3 linked regions of the Homo sapiens genome follow. The gene in region 1 interacts genetically with each later gene. Each region holds a gene or a part of one and is shown in the gene's direction. Other genes may lie near its edges.

Region 1 (3,500 bases):
CATTTCCCCTCAGATCCTACCACACCTTCAACCTCATAGAATTTACCTTAGGAGAAATAAAGGCCTTAAGTGGTTGTTTTGGTTTTACATATGGACATATATTTGGCTGACATTTTCCATTTGTATTGTTTAAATTTATACAGTAAAGTCTGGCTACATAATTAACTCATTGACAATTGCATGTCTTTTAGATACTCTCAGCCCCTGCATGAAGAAATAGCATTGCATAAACACCTGAAGCACAAAAATATTGTCCAGTATCTGGGCTCTTTCAGTGAGAATGGTTTCATTAAAATCTTCATGGAGCAGGTCCCTGGAGGTAAGAGATATTTCTTTCTTTAAAAAGTGTGAATGTTTAGAGCTTCGGAGGGGAGTAAAATTGAATGGGATTTACTAGCGTACAGGTCTTAATCTGTCTAAACTGAAAGAAAAATTGGACATGTGACATTACCTCCAGTTTGTTAGGAGATGTCAACCATAAATGATGAGATTTAGAAAATATCCTAATGTATAGAGTTTATTCCAGTGCAAAGCTTGAGGATAGCCACCCAGGAAACACAGACTCCAAAAGAATGGGCCAGTGTTCCAAAGTGAGGAAGTTCATGTTTCACTTATATAAGCTGAAGACTAACAGGGTGGCAACATCTTCTACCCAAAGTCATTACATTTAAGTGGTTACAGCTTGCTGTATTCCAAGGCACATTATTTTAATGTTCCATAAGGAGGGGTAATGGTCTCGGGGGATCTTTTCTTTGGCACCATTCAGTCTTCTCCAATCATTTACAGGACAAAAATGCGGAAGAGATTTAGCCTATAATCGCAGAATCAGAAGTTACAACTGAATGCTATATGACTCAGGCCACAAAGTCACATTCCTTAAATAATAAGGCTCAAATAATTTAAAGTTCTAGAAGCTTTACATGTGAATTATGTAATTTCACAGAGACAATACATAAATATGGGAACCATTTCAGTATCTATCATCATGACTTGAATTAAAGTTGGCAATTGACATTGGCCTTTTACTTAGACATATTTGATTACAAGCATCTTTAGAGTAGGGATATTTGCAAATTCATGTTTGAGCCCGATATCCAGTATAGCTCCTGGGCCACTGTGAAGAACCAATGACTGTTAGCTTAAATTACTGTTACATTATTAATACACTTTAAAGAGCTCATTTGAATGAGGATTTATTTACTATTTATCCCTACTTTACAGGAAGTCTTTCTGCTCTCCTTCGTTCCAAATGGGGTCCATTAAAAGACAATGAGCAAACAATTGGCTTTTATACAAAGCAAATACTGGAAGGATTAAAATATCTCCATGACAATCAGATAGTTCACCGGGACATAAAGGTGAGGTACACCAGCATTCATTTTCATGAGTTCTTTCTTTGCTGGGTTATTATTTTACTTGCAAAAGTCATATTGTGTTATGAGTATTAATTTAGAATGGTGAATAAGTAAATCTTAGAAACAGCAGAAATATAAAATATCGTTCAACCCTGAATCAGTTATTTATGTTCATGTCTTAACGCTTCTGCTCAAGGAACACACTGCTTAACTGCGTTCAGCCAACAAGATTGTGCTCCCACCACACAATGTTTCCTAGGAGCTCTGTGGTGTGGGATGCAGCTGTCAAAAGTTAAACAGGAGATGGCCCCTGGTCCTGAGGAGCTTATAGGCTGGTTAATCTTTGTATCCTTGCCCATAGTAGCTACTCAGTAAATACTTATTGAATCAATGGATGAATGGTTAGAAGAAAAAAAATTCCTCTTTTCTCACAAGTATCACATATTCATTGATTTAACTATAATTATAAGGTATAGATTCTCTAAAATAAGCTAAAATAATAACTTTACATTCTCTTTTTAAAAAGAAAATTCAGAACTAATACATTTTTTACAAAGTCTGGACTGTTGAAAATAAGTTAATATTAGTACCCTAAAATCAACCAAAAAGCCCATTTATCTATCATGTCCCTACATATTCCAGGAAAAGAAGTAAAGAAACATAGAAAAGAAAGTAAGGTAACTGGAAAGTTATGAAAATCGTAATTTAATTATACATACATCATTATATATCTGTAAATAGCAACAAGCTCTAACCAATTAGGAATCATATTTGATCTTGTGATCTGAGTAGCAGATTATGAAGAACTTATAACCATCCAATGAGTTCATGTTGCCCACTGACCAGATAGAGCTGATTTCTCAAGATGTAAGAATTGCAATTGAGAAAGAGTTTAATACACATAGAGATGGCCAAACAAAATATTGGATCTTATAATTATTCAAATCAGCTTCTCCAAAAATTTAGAGGCTAGGGTTTTTCAAAGATAGTTTGGTGAGCAGGGGGCTAGGGTCTGGGTGGTTGGGGATGTAATTATAGGGGTGTGGAAAATGGTTCTTGTGTGTTGAGTCCACTTCTGGGTAGGGGCCACAGGACTGGTTGAGTCCAGAGTCACAGGTCTGGGTGATGCCATCTGATAGTCAGAAATGGAGAAGCCTGTAAAGACATCTCAAAAGGCCAGTCTTCAGTTCTACAATAGTGATGTCAATTATAGGAACAATTGGGGAAGTTGCAAATCTTGTGACCCCCAGAATAATGGGCTGATAATCATTTGACTGTGCCTACATCTTAGCGGACTTTAGGCCCCTCTCATCCTCCTAACCTGGTGGCCTTTCATTAGTTTTACAAAGATAGTTTAGTTTTGGGGAAGGGCTATTATCAACTAAACTATAAATTAAATTTCTCCAAGTGAGCTTGGTCTACACCCTGGAATGACCAAGGGCAGTTTGGAAATTTAAAGCAAGATGGTGGTGGTTAGATCAGATCTCTTTTACTGTCATAATTTTCTCACTGTTGTAATTTTCGCAAAGGCGGTTGGTTTCAAACTGATAATATGTAAACAAAAAATAGTGTCAAGAATGCACTATTGAGATAAACTATTAATGAAGAATACAGAATTAATGTCGTTGGTAGCTGTAAGGACACCTTTTTTTTTTTTAAATTGGACTTACCAAGTCAACAACAGACAGTATCTGAAGAAAGATAACAATTGTGATTAAAGTCCTCTGTTCTCTAGGGTGACAATGTGTTGATTAATACCTACAGTGGTGTTCTCAAGATCTCTGACTTCGGAACATCAAAGAGGCTTGCTGGCATAAACCCCTGTACTGAAACTTTTACTGGTATGTTTTTGCAATGATGATACAGATCTTATGTAATTAAAGAAATAATTGCTGAGTTTGAGCACAATGTGAGAGAGAAATTCAGTTGGTGTTCTCACACACAGTAATGTTGGTATCTTTTTTCTTTCTTTTCTTTTCTTTTCTTTCTTTTTTTTTTTTTTTTTTTTTTTTTTTGAGACAGGGTCTTGCCCTGTCACCTAGGCTGGAATGCAGTGGTGTGATCACCTATCACTGCAGCCTCAAACTCCCAGGCTCAAGCAATCCTCCCACCTCAGCCTCCTGAGTAGCTGGGACTACAGGCATG
Region 2 (3,982 bases), on another chromosome or scaffold:
AGAGGGACCACTGCCATGACTTCATGGGGACATTTCCATGGGGAGCCACAGGAGGTTCACTGGACAGGTGTGTATGTCCAGTGTTTAGGAGGTGCTCTTGAAGCAGATCTGTTACTCTCAGGAGGTTCTCTAAGCGCATATGTGACTTTGCCATGTGGGGATGGGGGGCAGGGAATTATAAGCTAGTGTATTCAAAACAGGAGCAGCCCTTGTAAGCAAAGCTGTTCCATTATAGCCAAGTCATGTGCATCTCAGCTCCAAAGGAGAAAGTGACCATTCTCATTGAATTCTCATCGCCACAACCTTGGGACTGCCTGAGATAAGACACTCCACTTCCAGGGCCCACCCTGAGTTTTCACTCACACCCTGGATGCCCATCTCCTTCCCTCACCCTGGCTGACATTCTCAGCCACACTGCCCTCCCCTGGTCTCCAGGGGCTGAATGCTCCCAGCCTCAGGGCTTTTGCCGTGGCTGTGCCATCCATCTGGCCTATCGAACCCATTTGCTCACAGCATCTCACCCCCTGTAATAATTTATTTCCCTCTTTCCTTGTACCCTGTCTGTCTTCTCCCCCAGGGCTGAGAGCTCCAGAAGGAACCAAGGACAGGGAGCCTGTCTTGTCCAGCTCTGGTGCCCAGCAGGAGAGCCAGGCTCATAGGAGGTCTGCAAGTAATGTTTCTGGACGAACTTATGAAAGGCAGGTCTTTTTATACCCATTTCATGGATGAGGAAACTGAGGCAGAGAGAGAGAGAGACAGGCAGACGCACACACCCCTAGACAGAGAGAAACACTCCTGGAGAAAGAGAAAGGGAGGGAGAGAGGGAGGGGGAGGGAGGGAGAGAGAGAGAGAGAGAGAAAGAAAGAAAGAAAGAAAGGAAAGAAAGAAAGAAAGAAAGAAAGAAAGAAAGAAAGAAAGAAAGAAAGAAAGAAAGAAAGAAAGAAAGAAAGAAAGAAAGAGAGAAAGACAGCGCAGCTCCAGCCTGCCTGTATCCAGGGTTGAGGTGGGCGTGAGAGACACACGCAGGCAGGGCTGCAGTTCCGGGCAGGCCTTGGGGGCTCAAGATGCGGCTCCCCAGGGCGAGTGCTGGGGTCCCGGGGCAGGCGGGCGGCTGGAGCCCTCTCGTGGGCGGGCGCAAGGGGCAGGCTGGGCGGGCGCAGGCGGGAGCGTAGCAGCCGCTCCACTCCGCACGCAGGCAGCATCGGGGCAGCAGGAGCAGGTGAAGCAGGCGCGGCTCTGCCCCGCGCCTGGTGCCCCCTGGGCACAGGAGTGCGGCCGGGGGCGGGGCCGAGTGGGCCCCGGTACGAACCCTCCGGGAAGCCGGGCGCGCTGCCTGCCCTTGGCCCGGGGCGCAGAGCGTCACACTGGATCTGGGGAGCATCCTACCCCCACTGTGGACCTCAGTCTCCTCACCTGAGACATGGGCGGCCCCATCCGCACCCTGTAAGCCGCAAGCCAAGGAGGTAAGGGGTGCATCTGAGGTGTCTGGGCGCTATGGGCATTAGGATATAGTAGCTTTTGCTGAGATTTCAGGAGACAAAGCAAAGGGCCTTCCCTATTCTAACCCCACTGGGAGATTAGCATTGTGTGTATGATTCATTAATTTTCCTCTGATTGACTGGGAAGGCAGGCTGCAGGGGGTCCCTGTTGGGGCTTGCAGCTGGTTCTAGTTTTTGTATCTGGAGAGCTGCCTGGGGACAAAATGCAGAGACACCATTTTATTGACCTTGCGTAATAATCTACCCTCCCCCTCATACACTCGCCACCCCCTTGGGTGTGCCTGAGGGACTTGAGGTCCCCTGGTCCTCACTGGTCAGTGTACCCCAAGCCCAGCAGCCCCAGGCAGATGCCCAACACCACCTTTTCAGTGCTCCTCCTCCTCCTGTCTTGGCCCTCTCTGCCAATCCATTTTCTATATCCAAGTGATCTTACTGGAATGGACCTGACCTTGCTGGTCTGGCCCACCACTCCAGCTTCATCATCTGCCACCCTGGAACCTCTTATTCTGCTTACTTTTCCCAGCAGGCTCTGCTCCTTCCTGCCTCTGTGCCTTTGCACATGCTGTTCCTTGCACTTCGAGTTCCCTCCTCTCCCTGTCCCTTTGGCTGGTTGACTCCTCTTCAGCCTTTGAGCCCTGTACCATTGCCACCTCTTCTCTCACCTCCCTGCTCCCTGCTCCTTCTCTGATCTCTCAACTCACAGGCCTCTCTTTCATATTGGTGTTGGCAATGGCAATGAGTTCCATCTGCATTCGTGCTGGTCAGCCCCTCTGCTCTGGGAGGGCCATGACTGTATAAGTCATCTTTGCAGCCCTTGTTTCTAGCCCAGGGCTTGACACACACTTATTGAGTGGGTGAATGAAGCAGTGAGCATTTTCTGGAGCCCTCCCAGCCCAGTCCTTCCACTCTGATCCTGCTTTAGGTGGTTGGTTTGGGATGAATGGTGTTTCTCCACACCACTGGCCAAGCCTTGCTGATGGTCACCCAGAGCCTTGGGTTCTGGCCCATTTGCTGCTTCTGAGTGCAGTGCCTCTGCCACAGGTTCATGCAGCTGCGACTGTTCTTTATCTTATATTGGGCCCTGTGTTTGGCTCTGGAATAGTTTATTTTGCCATGTTCAGCCCCAAATGGCCCTTTTTGCCCGAAGACCATAGTGCTGGAGAAATCTTCCTGCCTTCGAGATCTGGTTCCTAAATAACCAGACTGTAAACTATCAGGTGAATTCACAGCTTGATCTTTTAAATGACCAAATGAGACTCTTTTTTTTTTTTTTGAGACAGAGTCTCGCTCTGTTGCCCAGGCTGGAGTGCAGTGGTGCACTCTCTGCTGACTGCAACCTCCGCCTCCCAGGTTCAAGTGATTCTCCTGCTTCACCCTCCCATGTAGCTGGGACTACAGGCATGCACCACCACACTTGGCTAATTTTTGTATTTTCAGCGGAGACGGGGTTTCACCATGTTGGCCAGGCAGGTGTTGAAGTCCTGACCTTAGAAACTCATCTTTATAAGTAGATCAGATGCACAGCAAGTGACATTCATGACAGCCGACAAATAGATTTTACTGAGCTCTGGTTGATTTTGGCCTTGTGCTCTGCAAAAACTGCCTTAACATAGCAATTGATCATGTAAAAAATACATATGGCCATGATATGAGACTTAAAGAATATCTCAAATAGGGTTTTCTGCTATAGTGTTTTACAAGATGGGGTCCAAGGGCCATGTGCATCAGAATCACATAGTCTACTTGTTAAATACAGATTCCTGGCCCCCATCCTGGATTCACTTAACTACATCTCCTGGTGGAAGGGCCCTGGGATCTGCACTTTCAACATGCTTCTAGAATGATTCTGATGTTTACTGAAGGTTGAGAACTGCAACCCTGTGGGATTAATAATGACTAGAGAATCTGAGAGGTGAGTCACAATGATGTATGTAGTGGTATGGTGCTTCCCATGCAAAACATCCATCATTGGCACTAACACGGGGGAACTCTGGAGTCTAAATTCCAACTCAGTCTTGGCAGGGGGTCCGTTGTGCTGAGGAGGTCCTCGGAGAAGGGACAGCCTGTACCAGGGCATAGAGATGTGGAAGAGTCTGGTGTGCTTGTGAGCTGCACACTGCATCAAGTGACTTGAACATAGTCATGGAGTAGGTTCTGTGGAGGGCACTGGGCACCTGTGACTTTGGCCAGGTATGTCTGTGCACATGGTGGGTAGTAGGAAGAAGCTGGTGTGCTGATGAGCCAGGCTTTGCATACTGGGCAGTCTTCAGTTTTGCCAGGTATCACCTAAAAAACAAGGCTACCAGGGCAGGGAGGGGCTGAGACCAGGAGGGTGCACTGATTGTGGATCCCCGAGGCTTTAGCTCTATCTTGAAGGGAATGGGGTGCCGTGGAAGGACACAAGCAATCCTGTGCAGAGTGGCATTTATTGCTGTCTCCATTAAGATAAAATGTGACAAGGGGCATTCTACCCATGTTCCCTG
Region 3 (3,500 bases), on another chromosome or scaffold:
AAAAATACAAAAATTAGCCAGGCATGGTGGTTGGCACCTGTAGTCCTAGCTACTTGGGAGGCTGAGTGGGGAGGATCACCTGAACCTGGGAGGTTGAGGCTGCAGTGAACTGTGTTCGAGCCACTGCACTCCAGCCTGGGTGACAGAGTGAGACCCTGTCTTAAAACAAATAAACAAATAAGAAAATGGCACACATTTCTCCTGTTGAGCCACAAGAGGGAGGGGCTGTGTGAACCTCATCTGTAGTTTAGGGGCAGCTTTTATTGGAGTTTCTTTACCACCGGCTTTAAATGTGTTCAGAGTAGAATTAGGACTTTCCCTTCAGCAGAGCTTGGGATCTTAGCCCTGGCAGAATTCCAGGGATGTCTTTATGTTTTAAAGTCGCCAGCTTTTGGAACTGTGGGAGGCCTCTGGTATTCAGCCCTGCCGCCAGACTGTGGGGCCACTGGGGTGCTCTCCGCTCTCCAGTCTCGCCCCCACTTCTGTACCTCAGGAGGTTTCTCTGCACCTCACTCCCTCGCGCCCAACCTTCCATGAAGCCCGTGTGAGGGAGTTGGCAGGGGGCAGAGGCGGGCTGTGCTGGGGCTCCCTGGAGTCCTCATCTGTCACGCCAGTCCCCACACGGTCATGAACTTCCACTCATTTCCCCTCACGCAGGGCATCCCGCCCTGCTGCCTCGCACCAGGGTGAAAGCTGTGGGCTCCTTCCCCAAGGAAGGGCTCGTCCTGTCTGCATTTTGATTAATTTAGGTCCCTTTGCATTGCCAGCTCTCAGATGGCTTTACCTTTGATTTTGTTGCTTGTTTGGCTTGTTTTCATCTTTAGGGCGAGACAGTCTTTTGTAACTTTTCTACCTTCTGACTAGAAGTGGATGCCGCCTGCATTTTCTTAACACCTTTTTCCCCAGCTTATTTTGGAAATCGTCAGACCTACAGAGAGCTGAAAGAACAGTACAGTTAACATCTGTCCACCCTTCACACAGATTCACCACTTGTGAACATTTTAATGCATTAACTTTATGTGTCTGTCTACTTATTTATGCATTTGTATGTGTATACTTTTTTCTTTTTTTTCCCCTAACCCATTTGAAAGTAAGTTGCAGCCATCATAACCTGGATCTCCCAAAAACAAAGACGTCCTCTTGTGTGACCACAGTTGAATTGTCCTACCTTAGAAATTCATCATTGATGTGATAATACTGACTAAGGTAGACAGTCCACAGGCCATCCGGAAAATCTGGAAACATTGACAAATATGCATGTCATTGTCAAGGTCATATCCAATCTGTGAAAAATAAATCATCTGCATTTCTAGACATCTATTAGTATTTTAATTCTCCCCAGCTCTCCCCAAAACATCCTTTTTAGCTGCTTTTAAAAAATTCAGCGTCCGTTGAAAGCACCAGTGTTGCCTATGACCTGCCTTTTTACCTCTTTTTACCTAGAAAGTCTCACTTCTTTTTTGGGAGACTCTTTTATGACAGTGACATTGCGCTGTGTCCAGGCCAGTTCTTTTATAAAATGTTCTACGATCTGGATTCATGCATGTATTTCCACTTGATGCTGAGTATTTTAAGATAATTCAAGAATCAGGTTTTCGTACAAAACAATCGCAATGCTTCGGCACTGCACAGGCCACAGAAGCCTGCGGCTGCCTCCGGCCCCGCCTGCTCCCGCTCCCCCAGGCCTGCCCTGCCCTTTTTCTTCTCTCCCTGCTTCTCCCTCGCCCTCAGCCCAGCAGCGTCTCATGGGCAGTCCAGGCTTTCGGGGCCAGGTTGGGCAGCAGCCCCTGCAGCCGGTCCCACTGAGTCTGCCCTGCCTTCCAGATTCTGGTACAGGTCAAAGAGGTCCTCTCCAAGCTGAGCACGCTCGTGGAAACCACACTCAAAGAGGTGCGCGTTGTGGGGCAGTGCGGGGAGGGCCAGCGGGGGTGGGCTCTCTGGCTGGGGAGGGGCCACAGAGCTCAGGAACTCACGGATCCACCTCCCTCTCTCCCTCACACCCCACCCCTGTGCCTTTCCTCCTGAATATCCCATTTCTCTCCTGGCCTCTTGGTCTTCGTTTGTGTTCCCTGCTTGTGTCTCTTGCATGATTCTTCTTGGTCTACTGTGAACTCTTACCCTTCCCCTCACCTCTGCCCCCTCCCCACGTCTCTCTCTCGGCCCGTCCCTCTCCGGTGGCCTCTTTTCTTTCAGACAGAGAAGATTACAGTATGTGGGGACACCCATGGCCAGTTCTATGACCTCCTCAACATATTCGAGCTCAACGGTTTACCCTCGGAGACCAACCCCTATGTATCCTTCTCAGCAGAGCCACCCTCTCCCCACCTCCACCCCCAGCCGCAGCCTCAGGTCTGCACAGAGTGGGAGGAGCCCTTGCCAGGAAAAGACGTGACCTTGGAAAGGAGAGGCCTGGCCATGCTGGGGCACCAAGGTGTGGGTGGAGCTGCAGGCTGGCCATGCACCCCAGGCTCCAGGCTCGGACAGGCCTGGGCCAGCACCCACCTGCTGTGTGACCTAAGCTGGTAGCTCAGTCTCTCTGGGTCTTGGCTTGTCTTCGTCTGCCTCAGGATCACATTTGAATGGCACCTGGCACTGGCCACACTTGGGTTCCATCCTGGCTTTGCCACTTCCCAGCTGTGTGACCGAAGCAGGTTACTTCACTGCTTGGTGTCACAGTTTCCCCATTTGCAAAGAGGGATAATAATATGTGCAACCTTGTTACTCAGCAGTTACTGAGAGGACAGGTTAAGAACAGGGCCTGGCCCACACCTGATGCTATCTAAGTATTTCCCCGTGTTATGGTATCTGCTCGATGAACGGCCACTTGTAGGGCCACTAGGCCTATGCATTGTTGAGTGGGAGGGCCCGTGTCCCATCTCCCCCATGGCTCCAGGCCTCTCTGAGGAGAGCTGAAGGAGGTGGACTGACTAGTCCCCGCACCTCCCCGCCACTGGCTTTCCGGGAGACAGGAGGCAGGGTCCTCAGTGCCATACTACTGAGGCTCAGCGGCCAAGCTCTGGCTGGAGCCACGGTGAGGAAAGGATTAGAAACCCAGATCCCTTGAGCCCTGCCAAGTCCTCACTCCCTGGGAGGTGCTGACAGGAGGCTTGAGGCCAGGCAGGAGCAGCCCATCTGGCCCATCTTCTGCCACCACCCCCAACCCCACCGCACCGCACCCTTCCCCTCCACGCTTGCCATGTTTTCCTCAGCAGGACAGATATTTAATGGTGACTTTGTGGACCGAGGCTCCTTCTCTGTAGAAGTGATCCTCACCCTTTTCGGCTTCAAGCTCCTGTACCCAGATCACTTTCACCTCCTTCGAGGTGAGCTGGGAAGTGACAAGGTTTGGGTTCATTGTGGGGTCCTGAGTGGGGCACTCACTCTGCAAGGATAATAGTTGCAGCTGTATTTATTTTGTGGACTCGGAGATCATGCACAGGGCGACCTTTTAAGATTGAGTATGTAGTGCACTGCACAAAAGCATCACACCAAAGGACGCG

Evidence for each region. Genes that interact genetically often act in the same process or in processes that back each other up.
Region 2: changes in MAP3K5 (region 1) and NPY4R together harm fitness less than expected from each alone (positive genetic interaction), as found in Homo sapiens cells (one large-scale study listed by BioGRID).
Region 3: of MAP3K5 (region 1) and PPP5C, changing one suppresses a phenotype caused by changing the other (phenotypic suppression), as found in Homo sapiens cells (one study listed by BioGRID).

What each region holds. Positions count from the first base shown.
Region 1 is NC_000006.12:136,610,978-136,614,477, reverse strand, and holds part of MAP3K5 (mitogen-activated protein kinase kinase kinase 5), read left to right. Parts: intron 1-191; coding exon 192-319; intron 320-1,221; coding exon 1,222-1,358; intron 1,359-3,090; coding exon 3,091-3,196; intron 3,197-3,500. UniProt on the Homo sapiens protein: Serine/threonine kinase which acts as an essential component of the MAP kinase signal transduction pathway. Plays an important role in the cascades of cellular responses evoked by changes in the environment.
Region 2 is NC_000010.11:46,463,159-46,467,140, reverse strand, and holds the start of NPY4R (neuropeptide Y receptor type 4), read left to right. Parts: upstream 1-1,182; 5' UTR 1,183-1,463; intron 1,464-2,408; exon of another isoform or gene 2,409-3,255; 5' UTR 3,256-3,411; intron 3,412-3,982.
Region 3 is NC_000019.10:46,381,587-46,385,086, forward strand, and holds part of PPP5C (serine/threonine-protein phosphatase 5), read left to right. Parts: exon of another isoform or gene 1-938; intron 939-1,824; coding exon 1,825-1,890; intron 1,891-2,193; coding exon 2,194-2,292; intron 2,293-3,217; coding exon 3,218-3,323; intron 3,324-3,500. UniProt on the Homo sapiens protein: Serine/threonine-protein phosphatase that dephosphorylates a myriad of proteins involved in different signaling pathways including the kinases CSNK1E, ASK1/MAP3K5, PRKDC and RAF1, the nuclear receptors NR3C1, PPARG, ESR1 and ESR2, SMAD proteins and TAU/MAPT.